Linked DNA regions of Homo sapiens. The protein of the gene in region 2 interacts with the protein of the main gene of each other region in a pairwise test. Each region holds a gene or a part of one and is shown on either strand. Other genes may lie near its edges.

Region 1 (10,609 bases), on a different chromosome or scaffold from region 2:
CATACATCACAGGCCTCTGCATTCCTCCCATTGGCAACTTCAGAATCAGAGTTACAGTTGTTGGGATAGAACATTAATCCAAGAGATAAAATCTGATGAGTGGCCAAAGATCTACTCCTGTCCTCTTAATTGAGCTTTTTCTCAATACTTAAAATCTAATGAACTAGTGAGTGGCATAAAGTGAGTTAAGCAAGATGAGTAAGTTCTAGAGAGTTGCTGTGCACCGTTCTGCCTGTAGTCAACAATGACTGCATTATGTGCTCAAATATTTCAGAGGATACATCTCATATTATATTCTTAGCACAATACAATAAAATTAAAAATAGGTATCTCTAATATTTGGTTACCCTAATATCTTCCCTAGTTAAATAGGAAAAGGAGCACGAATGAAAATCTTGCATTAAATTCTAACCCTCAGAACAAGGATAGTGAATGTTAAAGGAATCCTGAATGCTTTTTCCTTGTGAATAAAATACGGCACCCTGCTATTTTCCAAGTGAATCACGAGTACATTTGATTTACTTAGGTGGGCAGATCAACAGAAAGCCCTATCGACTTCGTTGTCACAGACACGATTTCTGGCAGCCAGAACACGGACGAAGCCCAGATCACACAGAGCACCATATCCAGGTTCGCCTGCAGGATCGTGTGCGACAGGAATGAACCTTACACAGCACGGATATTCGCCGCCGGATTTGACTCTTCCAAAAACATATTTCTTGGAGTAAGTACTGTCAAGAAGTACACGATTTCTAGAAAAATGCTTGTGATTATGATATGGAACATTTAATTGGAGCAAAAAAAAATTGGCTTTGTATGTTGCCTCTAGTGAGATTTTGAGATTTTAGTTTTCAGGTGGCCAGTTTGAGAAACTTGTTATTAAAAATCTGAACATTAATAAGCATTGCTTGTTATTCATTATATTTTTTATATTGTAATATTTACAGTAAGTACTTTTTTTAAAGTATGCCTATAACATTGTCCATAATGTATTTACGGCAACGAAGAGGTTTATTTCAGAGAGAAAAATAAATGGGCCAAATTTAGATCATTAGGGCTTAGAGGAAAATGTTAGTGATTCACTCATTCAAAAATGTTTTATGAGTGTTTGCTATGTTCCATACTGGGTGTTTTAGTTATGGGATTACAGAGAACAACACAGACTTGAATCCCTGCCCTTATAGGGTTTCCTTGTAAACCCCAGAAGTTTTAGTGAATATCCAGGTTTAACATAGTTTCCTTTTGAATTAGGATATTTTTGCAGGAAAAAACCCACTCAAAATGATCTAAAATCAGTGAAAATGTACTATTCCCACATAAGAAGTGCCGATGAAGGCCAGCTCCAGGGTTGGTGGTTCAGTGGTTCTGTGACATCCAGTGCACTGGGTTCTCTCTGTCTTGCCTTCTGCCTCCCGTGGTGCACCAGCCTCTTCCTGGGAGGTCTTCTTGTGGGTGAGAGCTGGCTCCTGCACTTCCAGATGTCCCCTGCCACATGACAACTTCCAGCCAGAGAAGAGGGTGGCAGAAGCACTGTTTCTTCCTTGTCTCTTCTTAGAGCACAGACACCTTTCTTGGAAGCCTCCAAGAAGATATCATGTGTCATCAGTCAGAGCCCAGTCATGTGCTGTGCCCACCTGTAAACCAGCTATTGGGAAGAGGGCTGGGAGTGTCATGTTGGGTTAATCAGGATTCCCCACCACCCCCCAACCCCCGCCCCAGCCACATGAACAGTAGCTGAGCTCTGTCACCAAGAAAGCTGAAGGGAAGAGCTGTGGCACAAGCACCCAAGAGTGTCTGTCCTGTCGTCATGTCAAGCTACATGCGCCATCTACCTTTGAGAATTTAAACGGTGATTATTATGAAAACATAATGACCCCGACTTGTTGGCTTAACATTTTTGGAATTTTCTAGCTTTAATAAAAGGTCTTTCTTTATGACTGTCCTTTCTCTTCTCTATCCTGACAGTGAGAACATAGAAAGTACTTTTAGATAACAGGATAGGAGCATGGCATAAGTATAACTGAAAAGAGAAAACACACCAGATTCCTGGAATCTCATGGGGTTGTGGGGAAGGTAAAAAGAATCTTAGAGGGAGAAGCCCAGGCCTCGATTTTTTGCAAGTTCTTGAGAACTATGATGTGTGTCCAGTGATAAGTCATTCATCCATTCAGCACTTCTTTTATATTGTCGAAAGGATGGCATATGTTATCCTTGTGATTATTAGCTTTAAATAGAAAATGAAAATTCATCACCTTCCTCCCCTCTGCCTCTATGCAATGTATTAAAGAAATTCCAGAATCCTTTCCATTTCAACATCATCTTAACCTACTTTTTCTGTTCTGCTGTGTTCTCTCCAGGAAAAGGCAGCAAAGTGGAAAAACCCCGACGGCCACATGGATGGGCTCACTACTAATGGCGTCCTGGTGATGCATCCACGAGGGGGCTTCACCGAGGAGTCCCAGCCCGGGGTCTGGCGCGAGATCTCTGTCTGTGGAGATGTGTACACCTTGCGAGAAACCAGGTCGGCCCAGCAACGAGGAAAGCTGGTGAGTGTGCTTCACTCTGCAAGTGTGAAGTACGAAACTACTCAAGCCTAACTCGAAGGCTATCATTTTCCTCCCCTGATGTTCAGAACCTTTGTGCAGGTCCAAGCGCCATGTACTGTAACTCAGGAGAAGCAGAATTCCACAAGCCCCTGAAATCAAGAGGGAAATGGCCTTATCTCCTTCAGGGGTTCAACTTTTCCCATAGTGGGAGTAAATTGTGTTTTGCTCCTTACCACCTGAAGAGCATTATCTTTTATTATATACCTCACCACAAAAATCTACTTAAATTCACTTTAAGGAGAAGAAACTTATTTTTAGTGTAAAACTTTATTGATTTGGAAAACGTTTGAGCAGTCCAAAAACAATTAGTAAAAATTATGCATTAAGGAATTATTTACTAGACTTTCTGGAAGTAAAAAATAAGTCAGCTGGTTTTCCCTTTGAATTCCTATATATTAAGGCAGAATTCTCTATACTGTCCACCAAAATCATAGTTACAACTGTTTACTTGAAATGATTTATATACTGCATTGACCTGGCATGTTAATATTTTCCTATAAATATCACCACTTATCCCCATGCCCTAAAGCAGTTTTTTTAAACCCATTCTTTCTTGGAGAATAATTATAATACCTTAAATATAGAACTTTGGGTTTCTGATCTTGCCATAGCCATGTAGCACAGCCACTGATTTTTAGTAAGCTGTCCATTCCTGTACTTTTCTTAATTTGCTAGGTAGAAGCTAGAACGAGAGAGAACAAATGTCTTTTTCTAGAAGCTAGAAAAGAAGGAGTTCTTCAAAACTCCCACAGAATAAAATGTATACAGAATAGAGGATTTGACCTAGCACTTGTCAGAGAGAAAGATCATCACCAAAAATGTCTAAGATGGAAAAAGAAGTTGGGGGCTGTTTCACTGACCTCATTTGCTGTTCTCTACTGGATGTTTGTGTTTAGGGAATGGTTATTTTTATTTCTATTTTACACCATTTTTCAGCTTCAGGCACAGCGTATGCGTCTTACAGTGCACCATGGCTGAATAAATATGAGAAGCATTTTCTAAAAAAAAAGCAAATTCAATAAATTTTGTATGAATGTTTTCAAGAAATTGTAAACAAAGGAGGAAATGTGAAAGCAGTTTTTCTAAATAATCTTTTGTTTCTGATCACTGGATAGTTTTATACAAAACTGACCTAGATTGGCCAAACTGGTTATTCATCATTATAACAGCAAGAGTAAGAAGTCAGTAAATGGTTGCTGGGTGCAGACTCTGCGTTAACATTTCCGACATGAGCTCACTTCATCTGCACAGCAGCCCTCTTAGGGAAGTAGAGTCATCCCCATTTCATGGATGAGGAAGATGTGGCGTGAAGTTAAAGATTGCCCAGTGTCACAGAGTTAGCAGGTGGCAGCCAGTGGGATTCAAACTCAGGTCTCCCTGATGGAGAGCCTGGACACCTAATACTACTCAGTACCATGTTGTGGGGAGCCAGGGATGGTTTACACCTGAGCATTTGCCTCCCTGGGTGAGTATAAAGCATACGCTGGAGTCCGTGGGGAGCGCCTTTGTCCAGGAGGGCATATCACAGGATGAGTTTCTCGTCCACTCTGGTTATTGTGTAATGACCCTTCTCAGGCTGCTATGTGTGCTGGAGAATTTTACAGTGCGACTGAAAAGAACGAACTCCAAAAATGGCTTGTATTAATGAGTTGTATTAAATATACAGGCTATTTTTGAAGTTAGTCCCTATAAGCGACACTGAGAACTATGTAAAATTGTGCTGTCCTATTTGATAGCATCCGATTAACCTGGCCAGTTACAAAGGCTTCTATCAGCCTGATCTTGGGCTTATGGGACACTGAACGGATACATTCTTCCTGCAATCTCCTCTTGTTAACCTCTGGAGAACAGTTTTTGTCTGTCTTCGAGGAAAGCTTACTGACTCTTTGAACTTCTGTTTCAATTCATGACTCATTGGTCCTGTACATGTTGCTGGTAGCATTTGATATAAATTATGTTTATCTGGAGGTTAGATTTTGGAGACAGTCTCTGGCAGTACTTGTCATTTGCAGTCTAATACAGAAATATGAGAAATAAAGTGAGCTGCTAAAAGTCTAAAATATTTGTTAAAACAATAGTAGTCACATTGTGGAGCTAGTGCTGGTGGAAGATTATGTATTAATATCATACTGAGCATTTGATATGAATCAATATACTAATGTATGTGTAACAAGAAATCACCGTTGTTTTTCATTATTACAGCAAATGATGGAACCTCAGAACTGTGTACTAATCAACAAAATTAATTAAATATGGGGGAAATGTCTTTTCAGGCCTTTAACTCCCTGAATAAATAGGTGAATGGAGTTTGAATTGTGCCCTCCTTTTTTAGCTAGTTAATGATAACATATGGTAACATTTATAATATTACTCCAGGAGGGCCTTGAGTATTTAATTAAATTATATATGAAGTATTTTATTAAACTAAACTGGCTTTGTATAAAATTAAGTAAATTCAGTTAAGTTGATTGCATACCTAATTTTAGGTGAAATTATAAAAATAACCATAGCGTAGCTATGGTCAGGCTCTAGCAGGTGCATTACATTAATTGTCTTTCCAGTGTTGCTTAAAATAACCCGTGAAGTCAGTGTTGTTATTGTGTCCGTCTACAGATGAGGAAACCTGGGCTTTAAAAGGTTAAGTCACTTGCTAATAAGAAGTGGTGGATGGGGGGTTGAATTCACTACCCTGTGCTTAGATAGTTGCTATGTAGGGGCCATTAGTTGCCATGGTAGAGGCCAAATGTCTCTTGCTTCCACAATACTGTCAATTCCTGTGCCTGCTCATAGCTTTTCTTTTGTGGTAGAATTTAAAAAATAAAATCTGAATTCATGCCTACTAATGATTGCTAAATCAGGCCACCAGGTTCAAGTCCTGGTTTCACCACTTAGTTCTGTGGTATTGAATTGACGACGTAACCTCTCTGTGCCTGGCTTCCACATCTCCCAAACTGGAATAATATTAATACATGTCTAATAGGACTGTTGTGAGAACTAAATTCAGTAGCTGGAAAGGATTGGAACAGTGCTGGACACAGTAATGCCCCATGACTGGCTGGTTGTTATTACTAAGCAGGGGTTGCAAACTGGGGATGTGGCAGAAAACACCAAGTCCACGCTCTGCCCTCTAATTGCATGGTCTGGAGGAGGTCACAGACTAGGCAGCAGATCAGCAGATACTGTGTGATGAGCACAGTCATGAGAAGGTACCGAAGGTACTTTCCCTCCACAGGACACCTACCCCAGATGTGGGAGTCAAGGGTATGTGGAAAATAAAAAACCATACACCCCAGATTTATAATAAGACTTTGTTGTTTACCAAGAACTGCCCTGCAGGAGGAAAGGGGGGTTGTTCCACAGCCAGAGGCTAGGCCACCACCATACCTCAGCTTCTTACCACATCAGGGTGATCCTTTAGACACAGTTTTATCCTGCAATGAGGCCTCCTCTGAGAATTGCCTGTGGTCAGCAAGGTCAGGAGCCTCACGTCACCAGTTAGAGGAGAGGAGACCATGGGATGCTCGGTATGGTGGTGGGGCGGGGAAGGAGCATCAGCAAACTTCAGGCTGTCTGAAAGGAGTCACAGTGTATGTCCTGTACAGTATTAAGATTTATCATTTGTTGGGACCTTAACTTTTTCTAAAAACTAATACTTGGGAAGGGCTGATTTCTTCATGACAAGGAAAATGTCCAGGGCAAAGTGACATCCAGGTGAGACCTGGATGACAAGTAGGAGTTTGCCAACCAGGGCTCAGCTGGAGCAGGGTGTACTGGAGTGGAGTATTCTAGGCAGAGGTTGCTCTTGCACCTGCCTGTGGGCAGTCCGAGGTAGTGCGCTCATGGACTCCAGCTCCTTGCAGCTCATCGCAGGACAGTCCTGGTTTCCAGTTAGGAAGGGAAGAGCTACAGCAGGAGAAGTCGAGTGACTGCATTGGGAGTGACCTTTTAAGTGTGTTAAGAAGCTTGGGCTGTACCCCAAGGGCAGCAGAAAGCCGCCAAAGTCCTTTGAACCAAAGATTGACAAAATTTCTGGTGCTTCCCATACCTCTCTCTTTCCCTTACATGGTTCTTTTCCTCCACCCCAGCTCCTGGCTCTGTCCTCAGTCCTCTCTGCCCTCCCTGGGACCCTGCCTGGGCAGTGGCATCCATTCCCACAGCTTCACCTAGGTGCGGATAACATCCCAGATATGTTTCTTCGAGCCTGATCTGTCTCCAACGCTGCATCACACGTGCCTTGTATGCATTACCACCACCGATACTCTGCACACCCTCACATTCAGCACACCCAAAACTGAACTGGCCTGGCTCTTGCTGTTGAACTTATTTAGTTCTCACAACAATCCTATAAGACATGTATTGGCATTATTCCAGCTTAATGGATGTGGAAGCCAGGCCCAGAGAGGTTAAGTCGTTGACTCAAGACCACAGAGCTACTAAGTGGTGAAATCAGGATTTACTCCCTCATCTGCCATTTCTCCTGTGTTTCTGTCTGTGGAAAGCACTGTTCTACCCAGACAACCAGGCACGTAAGAGGCTCTTGCTCAGATCAAGAGCTGAGTGCCATCGAGTCTAATTTCTTTCTCTCTAGTCCCTGTGCCTCTGTCTCTTGCCACTGAGACTGTCTTTGTTGAGGTGTACTCACCCTCTCTACCCAGAGAGAGCACCAGTTGCCTCCTTCACAGCTCATCTTTACCCCTCCAACCCACCCTCCAAAGTTCTAGAAGTGACCTTTTTGAAAGGTCAATCAGTTCTTTTATAGTTACCTAAACCCCCTACCAACTCCCTCTGGGCATGGATGCCAGCCTCCCTCTCCCGCCTGGGTCTCTCGTCCCCCCCCACCCAGTGCCCTGAACTGCGTCCATCCTTGTTCAGCCTGGCTGCACAGCCTCATCAAACTCCCTGTTGCTCCCTTGGTGCATATGCCATTTGGCCTCTCCTCCTTCTCCCTGCTGTGCCTTCCTGCTATCCTCCCTACTGAGGCCTGACATCTTTCTCAAATCTCTGTTAAAGAAAAACCTTTTAGAAACCATTTCTGACCGTCTGTCATCATCAGAGTAATAGTAGCAGGTATTTACAGAGTGTTGACTGCGTACCAGACAGTGTTCTCTAAGAACTCTTTGCATTTACTTATCTAACACAACCACCTTTTCTAAAGTTTAAACAAGGGGAAACTGAGGCACGAGGAGTTTAAGTAATCTGCACAGCGTCATACAGCTAATAAGTGGGAGAGCCAGGGTTCAAACCCAGAGTCCACACTCCTGGCTGCTATAAATTTGTGGCCTTGAACAGTGCTTTACTGGCCTTCATGCACTCTGAGCTCTGGGCATGTCTGCCTTCCACTACTGAAGAGCAAGTCTCAGCAGGATGGGGAAGAGGTTTTATTGGCCTTTGGTACCTCCAAGGCTTAGCATGCATCTGGCATGTGGAGGCAGCGGTCACGTTCTTGCTGACCACGCCTAGCTGCTGCTTGTCAGCTGTTAATCAGTCTTATAAGCACTTAGTGCATAGCACAGGCCTCCTTCTAAAAATGAAGGCTCATGTTGAACTGTTTAGCTTCAAACCTTAAAAATGAATGATGAAAGATAGATTCAAGGTGGAGGAAGCTAAGGGTCACCAGGAGTGCTTTGGACCCTCCAGTAATGACTGCAGGCCCCCCGCAAGATCTTCTGGATTGGCTGTCATCAAGATGAGGATGAGTCTCCACTGGATGGACTGGTAGGACATCTCTCATCCTATGGGATCAGTGAGTCATTGTGTTACTGACTTAAGGAGTTAAAAAGAAAATCTTAGGAGATTTGTGAAGTTCATTAAAATAACCACTACAGTAATTGAACATGTAAAGCTAGGTATACATACTGTGCTCAGGGCTTTGTACATACGGCATATATGTATCATATCCAGTGATCAGATGAGGAAGATGAGGCTCGGGGAGGATAGGTTACTCCCCCAGTTCTGTTTTTGTGGGATAAATTGCTTCCCTGTGTTATCTTCAAATATTTTTTTGCTTGTTCTGAGAGGAAAGAATCTTGGAGTGATTTGCTTGATTTTGCTTTTAAAAGGCATGTGTCTCAAACTTGTTGTAGGTGGAAAGTGAGACCAACGTCCTGCAGGACGGCTCCCTCATTGACCTGTGTGGGGCCACTCTCCTCTGGAGAACAGCAGATGGGCTTTTTCATACTCCAACTCAGAAGCACATAGAAGCCCTCCGGCAGGAGATTAACGCCGCCCGGCCTCAGTGTCCTGTGGGGCTCAACACCCTGGCCTTCCCCAGCATCAACAGGAAAGAGGTGGTGGAGGAGAAGCAGCCCTGGGCATATCTCAGTTGTGGCCACGTGCACGGGTACCACAACTGGGGCCATCGGAGTGACACGGAGGCCAACGAGAGGGAGTGTCCCATGTGCAGGACTGTGGGCCCCTATGTGCCTCTCTGGCTTGGCTGTGAGGCAGGATTTTATGTAGACGCAGGACCGCCAACTCATGCTTTCACTCCCTGTGGACACGTGTGCTCGGAGAAGTCTGCAAAATACTGGTCTCAGATCCCGTTGCCTCATGGAACTCATGCATTTCACGCTGCTTGCCCTTTCTGTGCTACACAGCTGGTTGGGGAGCAAAACTGCATCAAATTAATTTTCCAAGGTCCAATTGACTGACGCCCTTGACAGCCATCTACGACTTTATTAACAGGTTACTGTGAAGATTTTGCCACTAACTCTAGATTTTACCTTTTTGTAATGCTGTTTATCAGAGGAGGGTGACAGGGGCTGGAAATAAAGAGAGGGGACATGGTGATGAAACATGGCAGGAGTGTAACAGATACCAGTGGTGTGTTGCATGCTCAAAACAGCAGCGTCGTCATTGAAGTCTGCTTGATTAAACCATAATATCTTTGTAATAATTGGATTTAAAATGCTATGCTTCTATTTTTAACCTTGGGTTTTTAACCAAGTTTTTTTTTTTTTGTAATCTTGGACAAGACTTTAAATCATATTTTACAGATGTAGAAGAAATTTATTCAAAAGTGTGGGCTCATGAAGTTCACTTCAGTGCAGTGTGGTGTAGGTGTTACGCGAAGGGCGCACAGTGTCTAGAAATACTTGATCGTGGCTCAAACCTGACCAGACAGCAGAGGGGCGGCTCTGTACAGTGTGACTGGTGGACAGATGGCCTTAGGCACAGGTGGTTTTGAAATCTGGGGCTTTTTCTGATTTATTTTTCTGACTTGTTGGGGGAGAGAATATTCATAACTTGTGGGCTTTTTTTTTTTTTAACTTCAGTGGAATTTACTTTAGATATTCATTCATCAAATACATGGGACTTCACAAACAATTTTCCATAACTTTTTAGCCTGTCTTTTGTTATTTCTGCCTAATATGATTTGCCCCGATACTCATCTTGCACGGCCAGAACTGTTTGGTTGATTAAAATACATCAGCTCTTAAAAACTCATTAACTGAGGGTAATTACAGTAGTAGACATGGTCTGGGTACTATACTACCATGTTTATTTGCTGACTGAATTAAGATTTAAGAATGATTAAAAATAAGCTTTTACTTTTTAAAACCACTTGAGGTTTCATAAAGCTTGGGGTTTTTTTTTTTCCTTTGTTAAGAAAGCCAACCAATCACAATGATATAGTCATTGTTGTGCACTCCCTTTTCACCATCTGTCACCTTCCCTTGCAGCTTAAGGAGCCCAGTAAGTTTTGAAAATGTTTGCGAATCAAACTAAATTTAAGTGGGATGATTAGATATACACAACACCAAGTGGTACATCTGCAGAGATAATTCAAAATTCCTGCTTTTGAGAGAGCAAATGAGTGTTGCTGAGGAATAATTAAATGAGAATTTCATAGGAGCTCCACCATTCCTGTTACTTTCATTTCATTTTGATTAATAATTCTTGGATGCTTGGCATCGATCGTATCACTGCTCCTAGAAGGTAAAGATCCTTTAGGACATGAGACTGGTAGAAGCTGGCTGAGATAAAATAAGTATTTATTTAAA
Region 2 (11,006 bases):
GACCCAGCTGTCCCGCCCCTGAGCTGCGAAGCCTCGCCTCCGACCCCGCCCACAGCCAGGCCGGGTCTGGGGTGCCCCTTACCTGGGGCTCCGCGGAAAGCCAGCGGCGGAGCGGGGCCTCGACTCCAGGCAGCCGGGTGGCAAGCGGCGAGCTCTGCGTCGGGGGGCGGGGAGGCTGCGGCACCGCCCTCGGGCCCGCTGTCGTAGCCACGCAGCTCCTCTGGCGTGCTCGTGGCGCTGCTGCTGTGGCCGGCCAGGTCTGGGCCGCTCAGCGTGCTGGACGGGCTGCGCGAGGGCGGCGGCGGCGGGCCGGGGGCCAACGCCAGGGTCAGCCGTGGGCCCGAGACGGAGGTATCCGGACCCGGGGTCGGGGGGCGGCGTGGGGCCTGCAGGGTGGGTGAGGCAGGGGGAGAGGGAGGGACCTGCAGAAGGGGCGCTGCCAGAACAGGTGGGGCCTGTGGAGGAGGCGTGGCCAAAGGAGACATTGGGAGTGAGGCAGAGGGTGAGAAAGGGGCCTGCCCAGGGAATGAGGCAGGCGGAGAGGGAAGGGCCTGCAGAGGAGGTGTGGCCAGAGCAGGTGGGGCCTGTGGAGGGGGCTTAGCCAAAGGAGACATTGGGAGTGAGGCAGGGGGAGAGGGCGGGACCTGCAGAGGAGGAGCGGCAAGAAGGGGTGGGACCCGTGGAGGGGGCGTGGCCGAAGGAGACATTGGGGGAGAGGCAGGGGGAGAGGGTGGGACCTGCAGAGGAGGCGCAGCGAGAGGGGGTGGGGCCTGTGGAGGGGGCGTGGCTGAAGGAGACATTGGGGGAGAGGCAGGGGGAGAGGGTGGGACCTGCAGAGGAGGTGCGGCTAGAGAGGGTGGGGCCTGTGAAGGGGGCGTGGCCGAAGGAGACACTGGGGGTGAGGCAGGGGGAGAGAAAGGGGCCTGCACTGGGGGTGAGGGAGGGGGAGAGAAAGGGGCCTGCAGAAGGTGCACTGCCAGAGCATTTGGGGCCTGTGGAGAGGGTGTGGCCAAAGGAGACAGAGGGGGTGAGGCAGGGGGAGAGGGAGGGGCCTGCAGAGGAGGCAAGGCCAGGGCAGGTGGGGCCTGTGGAGGGGGCGTGGCCAAAGGAGACAGAGGGGGAGAGGGCAGGCCCTGCAAAGGGGGTGAGGCCAGAGCAGGTGGGGCCTGTGGAGGAGGCGTGGCTATGGAAGAGGGCGTCTCCGGAGGGGGCGTGGTCAATGGCGAAGGTGGTGCTTGCAGAGGGCATGGGGCTGGACAAGGTGGAGTCTCCAGATGGGGTGTGGTCAGGGGAGCAGAAGCTGTCTGCAGAGGAGGCGGGGCTAGAGAAGGTAGGTTCTCCAGAGGGGGTGTGGTCAGGGGAGCAGAAGCTGTCTGCAGAGGAGGCGGGGCTAGAGAAGGTAGGTTCTCCAGAGGGGGTGTGGTCAGGGAAGCAGGAGGTGTCTGCAGAGAGGGTGGGGCTAGGGAAGATTGGGTCTCCAGAGGGGGCATGATCAGGGAAGAGAGAGGTGCCTGAGGAGAGTGGGAGGCCAGAGAAGATAGCGCCTGCAGAGGGTGTATGGTCAGGGGTGAGCTTAGGGGTGAGACAGCAGGAGAGAGAGAAGTCTGCAGAGGGGGTGAGGCAGGAAGGGAAAGAGGGGCCTGCAGAGGGGGTGAATCAGGGGGAGTAGAGGCCGGCCGAGAAGGTGAGATCAAAGAAGCTTGGGTTTGCCTAGGGGACATTGTCAGGAAAGAATGTGTGGCCTGCAGAGTGGGTGAGCCCAAAGAAGTTGTGGCCTGCAGAGAGGACAAAGCCAGAGGAGAGGGAGGTGCCTGCAGAGACGGTGAGGTCAGAGAATGTGGGACCTGTATTGGGGGAATGGTCTGGAGAGAGGGCGGGGCCTGCATAGGGGGCGTAGTCATAGAAGGTGGGGCCTGTGGGTGGGGCGGAGCCTGCAGAGGCGGTGAGGCCAAAAGAGAGGGAGAAACTAGAGGAGGATCCTGCAGAGAGACTGTGGTCAAAGGAGAGGGAGAGGCCTGCAGAGGCAATGTGGCCAGAAGAGGAGAGTCCTGCAGAGGAAGAGTGGCCAGAGTGTGGGGCGTGGCCTGGAGAGAGGGCGGAGACGGGGAAGGACTGGCCTGCGGAGGGGGCGTGGTCAGAGCAGAAAGGCCTGGCTGAGGGAGTGCGGCCAGGGGAAAAGCCGAATTCCCCAGAGATGTTGCCGGAGAAACAGGGCCTTGTAGAGGAGACATGGCTGACAGAGGAGGTGTGGCCAAGGGAGAGAGGAGAGTCGGAAGAGAGGGCAACGCTGGATTAGCTTGGGTGGGGGGCATACTCTGCAGAGGGGATGAAACTGATGGAGAGACTGAAGCCACAAAAGCGGCTGTGGCCAGGGAAGAGACGCCTGCTTCTGGAAAGGACATAATCAGCTGTGTGGGTGGAACTTGCGAGGGGGGCGTGGCTGGTGGAGAGGGGAGGGTCTGCAGAGAAGGTGGAGCAGAGGGAGAAGGAGGGGCTAGAGGAAGGGGCGTGGCCAACTGACAGGTAAGGCTCGACGAGTGGGGCGTGGCCGGCAGGGTGGGCGGGGCCTGACTTTGGAGAGCGGCTGGCGGAGGGGGCGTTACCGGTGGAGAGGGAGGGAGCGTGGCTGGCAGGGGAGTGGCTGCATTGTCGGGAGGCGGTACGGGTCTTGCCTTGGTACCCGATGGAGAGGGTGTGGCCAAAGGAGAGGAAGAAAGCGGTCCTAGTGCTGGGGCTGCGTCCTTCCTTGGGGGTGTGACCTGAGGGGGTCGCAGAGCCTGCAGTCCTTTCGGCTTGGGCTGCGAGGGATGCGCAGGAGCCCTGGGTGTTCCGCGGGCTGAGGGCCCAGAACGGGCTGGGGAGGAGAGAGGGGTGGCGCTGGAGCTCAGGGAGCGCGAGGCCGGCCTCTGGAGACCCCCACCGGCGCTGGGCCGCCTCCTGGCAGCCGGGCTTGGCTCGGTGGTACTGTGCTCCGAGGCGCTGCTCACTGATTTCCGGGGGCCCTCTGTCGGGGGCCGTGGCCGGGCACTCGGAGCTGGCCGGGGGAGCCCCACCTCGGTGCCCGCAGCCCGGGACCGACGGGCCATGGCCGGGGACGGGGTTCCTGGGGTAGGCCCGGAAGTGTCTGGAGAAAAAGTAGAAGGCCAAGGGTCACCGATACCTCTGAGGCGGCTCCCCTTGCTGCCCAGGAACCCCACTCTTCTCCAGGTCACGTACCTCTCCGTGCCCCAGCGCTGAGGGCACTCCTTTTGGGAGCCTCTGTAGCTTTTCCTCTGGCCACAGTTTCCTCCGCTGAGATCCGGAGTCCCTTCTGGCCAAGAGGGCCTGGCCTGGAGACAGAAGGGGCCACGCTCAGGCCTAGGTCTTTGTTTGGCTTCCCAAGTCTCTATTTTCCCATCTGTGAAATGGGCATGTGCCCTCTCTGAGGACCAATAATGGCTTTCACCCAATTTGTGCCCAGTGACCTGCAAGTGCTCCCGCGCCCCAACTCGTGTAAAATAAAAGGTTCCAGACTCTGTGACGCTAACCCTGGCTTAGGAGACTGGGGGAGAGGGAGCAGGTTACCTGGTGGTCCCGCTGGCACGCCCTGGGCTAGAAACAGGGCCTGGGCTGGTGTTCTTGGCAGGAGGAGCTCTCTCCCCTCTCCCAGAGGCTGGGGGCCTGGAGGCTGCGGGGAGAAGGCCGAGTCACAGGTGCCCCGGAGAGGTGGCAGTGGAGGTGAGACTGGACAGGTATTGGAAGGGGGAGGGAAGATGGGGGCGGAGCTGAGGAAGGAGGCTGGGGTACCAGGGTTTCGGGAACTTGTCCCAGCACTCCGCGTTGGTCCCGCTCGGGGAGCAGACTCGGGAATAGTGGCCCCGCCGATGCCCCCCGCTCGCTCTGCCAGAGGCTTTCGCCCCACTGCTCCCGCAGCTCCCAGAACTCGGAGGGCTGCGGGAGTTACTGGGGGAGGGGGTCGAGGAGAGCCTGGGGGCCTGGGGGTCAGAAGTCCAGGAGCGCGAGCAGCCGGCGTCCGCGCGGCGGCCCCTGCCTTCGCCTTGTCTCTCTTGTTGTCCATCTTGCACCTGAAGAGACAAACCGGTCCGCATCCCAGGTTCTGGACAGCTACGCCGCCTCCAGAGACCTGGACCCTGCTACCTCACTGCCCTTTCGCAGCATCGCCACCCATGGACACTCAAACCTCGGCCTCGGCTTCCATCCGCTCGGCTCCCACGCACCTACACCCACTCGCCAGCCCCACTGCTCCTCGCTGTCCCCAAGTCCCACCCCCCACCGCTTTTCCCTAAAGCGAAGAGGCCCTGCCCGCCCCAGCCCACCGCCTCCCCCGCCTCGGCTCCAATTCAGGACCGATCTCCACGCCCCTGCCCCTTGCCCCTTCAGGGACTCAGACCGCCAGCCTCGAGAGCGGGGGACTGCCACGGGCTCAGGATGTCGCATCCCTCCAGACCCGGAGCGCACGCCCGGGTCTCCCCGCCAGCCCCCATCGGCCTCCCCTGGCCTCCCCGAGGGATGCCTGCACCTGCCGGGAGGCAGAGCGGCCCCGCTGCCCGCGAACGGGCTCCGGGAGACAAAGAGCCGCGTCCCGGGCCCGACCCCTCCCCCAGCCGGGCCTGGCCCGCGCCCAGCCTCTCCACCTGCTCGCGTCGCGCTCACCTCCGCCTCCGGCCTCCGGCCGCTCCTCACAGAGTCGCCTGGGGTGGGGCCCGGGCCGGAGCGACGCGGTGGCCGCCAGCGGCGAGGAGGCGAGGGGAGGGGGCTGCGGGCTGCGGCGCCGGGGGAGCCGAGCCGGTCCCGCCCCTCGGCCGCGGGCGGGAGAGCCGGGGGCGCGCGCTCGATCCGGACCCGGGAGCGCGGCCGGCGGAAGCGCGCCGAGGGGGATGGGGGAGAAGCGCGCTTTGGAGAGAAGGGTGGCTTCTCTGCGGTCCGGGGGAAGCCTGTTTCCCCAGCTGCGCCTGAGGAACCCAGATAGTCAACGGTTGGGACTGGGGGAGCAAATCCCTGGGGTCCTCCACTGTCCTTCCCAACACATACACCTGCCCCGACCCCCACCACAACCACCTGGCACCAAGGACCGCCTGGACGCGGATAGGCTGGGCCCTGGCAACCAGGAGGCGGGACCACCGCGCCTCTGGCCCACACACCAATCCGGCCGCTCGGTGGCCCTGGCACTATCCAGTCCTTCGCGTCTGCGAAAGCTAGGCCGCCCAGGGTCTCTGGGGGGCAGCCGCCCTCCGCCCCACACCCGAAGGTGTTCCCCAGACGCCAGGAAACCCCTTATCTGGTTGGGGGGTCGAGGGACTGCTAAGAGAATGCTGCCCTGGGAATTTCAGGATGCAAGGTAGACCCCAGATTTTGGGGAAGATAAAGAAAGGAATAGGAGGGAGAGCGACAGGAGACACAGTATATTCTGTGAGAGGTGACCCAGCCGTCTGCAGGGTAGAGCACGCCCACCCTCCACACCCTCCCAGCTAACGGGATGTCAAGTCAGCCCAGACTTCCTGGCAGAGCTGGGCTTCCGGGGGACAAGGTTCTGTCGACCTAGCAGGTGTCAAAACAAGTGCATAAGGCCGGGCGCGGTGGCTCACACCTGTAATCCCACTGCTTTGGGAGGCTGAGGCGGGCGGATCACTTGAGCTCAGGAGTTCGAGACCAGTCTGGCCAACATGGCGAAACCCTGTCTCTACCAAAAAATACAAAAATTAGCCGGGCATGCTGGCGAGCACCTGTAATCCCAGCTACTCGAGAGGCTGAGGCAGGAGAATCGCTTGAACCCGGGAGGCGGAGGTTACAGTGAGCCGAGATTGCGCCACTGCACTTCAGCCTGGGCGACAGAGTGAGACTCTGTCTCAAAAACAAAAACAAACAAAAAAACAAAAACACAAGTTCATGAAGGACGCAGAAGATCCTTTACAAGGGTCCCAGCCCAGCCGGAGCGAGTGGGAGGTGTCCTGTTGCTGACTTCAGCCAGGGCAGGGGCCTCGGTGGAGAGCGGTGCTCCAGGACTGTGGCATGAAGAGGGTGGGAGCCTGAGGGTGGAAATGGCCATTCCTCAGCTCCCTCTCCTTATAAGAAGAGTCTGGGCCGGGCATGGTGGCTCAGGCCTGTAATCCCAGTACTTTGGGAGGCCGAGGTGGGCGGATCACAAAGTCAGGAGATCGAGACCATCCTGGCTAACACGGTGAAACCTTGTCTCTACTAAAAATACAAAAAATTAAACGGGCGTGGTGGTGGGCGCCTGTAGTCCCAGCTACTCGGGAGGCTGAGTATGGCCTGAGTATGGCTGAGAATGGCGTGAACCCAGGAGGCAGAGCTTGCAGTGAGCCGAAATCGTGCCACTGTATTCCAGCCTGGGCGACAGTGCAAGACTCTGTCACACATGCACAAAAAAAGAGTCTGGCCTTGTCACCTCTGTCGGCCAAGTCCCCTCCTCATATGGCCTCCATGAGCTTTCCGCCTGGATGTCGCATCCCTCCAGACTTACAGCCACTTTTTACCCCATTCCAGGAAACCAGCGCCCTGTGCCCCACTGCTAACCCCATCGCAAGCTCATATGCACAGTTCACTCCCTCCTGGAAATCAGGGGGCCTCCATGCACAGGAAACAGATAATGCAACTTGGCATCGGGTGAACTGGGGTTGGGGGGTAGGGACGTTGCGCCCATTTGAGGTTGCAGAAATGGAAGGCAGAGAAAAATGACAGAGCTGAATGCCATGCTTTGACCTCCAGATTGGATCATCCTAGGCCTTATCTTCTCCCTCAGTCTAGCAATGATCACCCGTGTGAACCCCTTGTGGCATGACACCAGCCTGGTTCCCTGTCTACCCACCCACACCCAGTGCCTCCTTCCAAATCACATCCACCAACACAGATCCCTGCCCTCCTATTTATTTATTTTTGAGACAGGATCTCACTCTGTCACCCAGGCTGAAGTGCAGTGGCACGATCATCACAGCTTCACAGCTCACTGCAGCCTCGACCTCCCAGGCTCCAGTGATCCTCCCACCTCAGCCTCCCAAGTAGCTGGGACTATCAGCCGAGGCGGGTGGATAATTTGAAGACAAGAGTTCAAGACCAGCCTAGTCAACAGGGTGAAACTCTGTCTCTACTAAAAATACAAAAAAATTAGCTGGGTGTGGTGCCTATAGTCCCAGCTACTTGGAAGGCTGAGGCGCGAGAATCGCTTGAACCCAGGAGGCGGAAGTTGCAGTGAGCCGAGATCATGCCACTGCACTCCAGCCTGGGTGACAGAGAGACTCCATCTCAAAATAATAAAAAATAAAAAATAAAAATAAAAAACAAAACCCAGATCACTTGAGGTCAGGAGTTCGAGACCAGCCTGGCCAACATGGTGAAACCTCATCTCTACTAAAAATACACAAATTAGCCGGGCATGGTGGCCATGCACCTGTAATCCCAACTACTCGGGAGGCTGAGGTAGGAGAATCGCTTGAACCTGGGAGGCAGAGGGTGCAGTGAGCCGAGATCACGCCATTGCATTCCAGCCTGGGCGACAGAGCAAGACTCCATCTCAAAAAAACAAACAAAAACAAAAACAACAACAAAAAAACAAGTAGCTGGGACTAAAGCCTACCCCACCATATCAGGCTAATTTTTAAATTTTTTGTAGAAACAGAGTCTCGCTGTTACCCAGGCTGGTCTTGAACTCCTGGGCTCAAGTGATTCTCCCACCTCAGCCTCCAAAACTGCTGGGATTACAGGCAGGAGCCACCTCACTCAGCTTCACCTGCCTTCTGACTATGATGCAAGGGTTCCTCCAGGGTACACAAAACCCACCCTGTAATTAATTGGGATCTGGACTCTGCCCTCTTATAAAAACACTCCCAAAACCTCCATCAACAAGAGGGATGAGTAACATGAATCAAAGTGTCCCCTACAATGGAATGAAACTTGGCAACAGAAAGGAACAGACTATGCTACTCTCAAAACAGGGACTAATCTCAAAAGCACACCGAACAAAAGAAGCTACAAAAAACACGCACTGTATGATTCCATTTATAGAACATTCCAGAAAATGCGACTAATCTGTAGTTACAGACAGCACATCAGTGGTTGCTTGGAACAGGTGGGGGAGGGACATTGAATGAACTGCCCAGCGTAGCCACTCTTAGGCATGTGACTCTCAGGTGAGGGCCAGGCGACTGTAGTCCCAGCTACTGGGGAGGCTAAGACAGGAGGATCCCCTTGAGGCCGGGAGTTTGAGGCCAGCTAGGGAAATATAAGGAGACCCCGTCTCTAAAAGAAAAATAAATAAATCACAAATATATATGTATATGTGTGTGTGTATATATATACATATATACATATATATACATATATACATATATACGTATATACGCATATATACATATATACATATATACGTATATACGCATATATACATATATACATATATACGTATATACGCATATATACATATATACATATATACGTATATACGCATATATACATATATACATATATACGTGTATACGCATATATACATATATACATATATACGTGTATACGCATATATACATATATACGTGTATACGCATATATACATATATATACATATATACATATATATATATATTTTTTTTTTGAGACAGAGTCTCACTCTGTCACCCAGGCTGGAGTGCAATGGCGTGATCTTGGCCCTAATTTTTAATTAATTAATTTATTTTTGAGGCGGAGTTTCACTCTTGTTGCCCAGGCTGGAGTGCAATGGTGCGATATCAGCTCACCGCAACCTCTGCCTCCCAGGTTCAAGCGATTCTCCTGCCTCAGCCTCCTGAGTAGCTGGGATTACAGGCATGCGCCACCATGCCCGGCTAATTTTGTAGTTTTAGTAGGGATGGGGTTTCTCCATGTTGGTCAGGATGGTCTCGAACTCCTGACTTCAGGTGATCCACCCACCTCGGCCTCCCAAAGTGCTGGGATTACAGGCGTGAGCCACTGCACCTGGGCATATATATATATATATATATTTTTTTTTTTTTTTGAGGAAGCAATTTCTTTAATTTTATCAGAATCCAGGACACAACAAGAAAAGCACCCAAAAACCACATGGAGACAGAAGATGAGACACAACTCCTCCCCCACCCCTTCCCTGCTCTAGAGTGGGGACAAAGTCAGAGTGAGACAGCTTGGGGGAGACCTGAACCTCAGTCCAGCCCTACAGGCTCCAGGCCTGCAGGGAAGGAGGGTAATGGGGAGGCAGGGCCCAGCCCCCCAGTTTGGGGAAACAGCTGAGGGAAGGCCCCCCTCAAAAGGCTCCACCTCCTCACCAGCACTCCTGCCCAGGGACAGGGAGCCCACAGCAGCAAGGGGACCTCAGGGCCATGGCCACCTTCATGACTGAGAAGTAGCTGAGTGGAGGCAGGAGACACACGATTATCTGGGCAGAATCAGTTAGAGCAGGGGCCTGGAAGGGCCCCATGGGCCAAACCCTGAGGTCACAGGAGGGGCCCCAAAGCGGGGCTAGTGAGTGAGGTCCTGAGTGAGTGGGTCAGCAGCTGGGCCCCTTTCTCTAGCTTCCTGTAGCCCCTCCAATACTGCTGCCAGGGAGGCCTGCCTCCAGGGAAATGGGATAAGAAAGCAGCCTGCCCCTGCTGCAGACAGAGCCAGGTGGCTGAGGCCAGGAAGGAAAGCCCGGCCAGGCCTTGCCACCTGCCCCAGAGGCCTGTGGGAAAAGGACAGGCCAGGAAGGGTGGGGACAGGGGCTCGACTGGCTCAGATCCAAGATGGTGCCACGCTTGCTTGCTGAGTCCCCCATGAGCTGGGGCACCGCACTGGGGCCAGCGACTAGTTAGACAGAAGGCAGCAACTTCTCCAAGAAATTCCTTCACAGCTGCCATCTCCTGAGGACAGCAGCTGTGCATGACACCCGAGTATGTCTTGAACTGGACCCTGGCAGGTGTGACAACAGCCGTCAGGGTCCCAAACCGTACGGGCACCATGGGGTCCAGCTCCCCATGGCACTGGAGGATGGTCAGGCCCTTGCCACTGCCTTTAGCTGCCTGGGGGAAGGCCCGGTGCAGAGGCAGCCAGCAGCTCGATGCTACGATACCAGCCAGCGGGTGGGGGCAGGTGAGGGCCGTGTAGAGGGACAGGGCCCCGCCCTGTGAAAAGCCTCCCAGGACGATTCGATTGGCAGGGATCCCGTTCTTCATTTCATGCTCAATCAAGGCCTTGATGTTCTCTGCTGCCTTCTTGATGCCAGCCTCGTCCTCTGGGGCATCTGGACTCAGCCCCATCAGGTCAAATCAGGAAGGTGTCACCATCTTCATGTTGAGAGTCACAGGGATCCTAGGCACATGGGGACAGATGGAATTGACGTGAGGGAGCCGGACGGTGGAGAGGGCGTCAGCCCAGCTGTGCCCTGTGTCTCCAAGTCCATATAAAAAACTAACCGCGGCTGTTTCCCGCTCAGCTCCAGACACCGCGGCAGCATCAGTGAGAGGGGCGTAGACGTGGTGTTACCACACATACACCACATGGCTCCACGGCGGGAGCCTCCACTCCCTGGGGCTTCCGAGGCCGCTTGGGCGATTCTCCTCTTTCTCCCGCAGACACACACTCTTCCCCCTCGGCCACCCCCACTCCATATATATATATGTATATATAAATATATTATATATATAAATATAAAAAAATATATAAATATATTATATATAAATATAAAATATACATATAAATATATTATCTATAAATATAATATATATAAATATATTATCTATAAATATAAAATATATATAAATATATTATCTATAAATATAAAATATATATAAATATATTTATATATATATAATATATTATATATATATAATATATTATATATATATAAATATATTATATATATAAATATAAAATATATATAAATATATTATATATATAAATATAAAATATATATAAATATATTATATATAAATATAAAATATATATAAATATATTATATATAAATATAAAATATATATAAATATATTATATATAAATATAAAATATAT

Evidence for each region.
Region 1: the proteins of PRR36 (region 2) and PELI2 interact in a two-hybrid assay, tested with the Homo sapiens proteins (one study listed by BioGRID).

Annotation. Positions count from the first base shown.
Region 1 is NC_000014.9:56,287,911-56,298,519, forward strand, and holds part of PELI2 (E3 ubiquitin-protein ligase pellino homolog 2), read left to right. Parts: intron 1-526; coding exon 527-724; intron 725-2,357; coding exon 2,358-2,546; intron 2,547-4,808; coding exon of another isoform or gene 4,809-4,856; exon of another isoform or gene 4,857-5,445; intron 5,446-8,689; coding exon 8,690-9,256; 3' UTR 9,257-10,609. UniProt on the Homo sapiens protein: E3 ubiquitin ligase catalyzing the covalent attachment of ubiquitin moieties onto substrate proteins. Involved in the TLR and IL-1 signaling pathways via interaction with the complex containing IRAK kinases and TRAF6.
Region 2 is NC_000019.10:7,869,633-7,880,638, forward strand, and holds the start of PRR36 (proline-rich protein 36), read right to left. Parts: upstream 4,759-11,006; 5' UTR 4,654-4,758; intron 4,065-4,653; 5' UTR 4,058-4,064; coding exon 3,787-4,057; intron 3,668-3,786; coding exon 3,565-3,667; intron 3,330-3,564; coding exon 3,217-3,329; intron 3,125-3,216; coding exon 83-3,124; intron 1-82.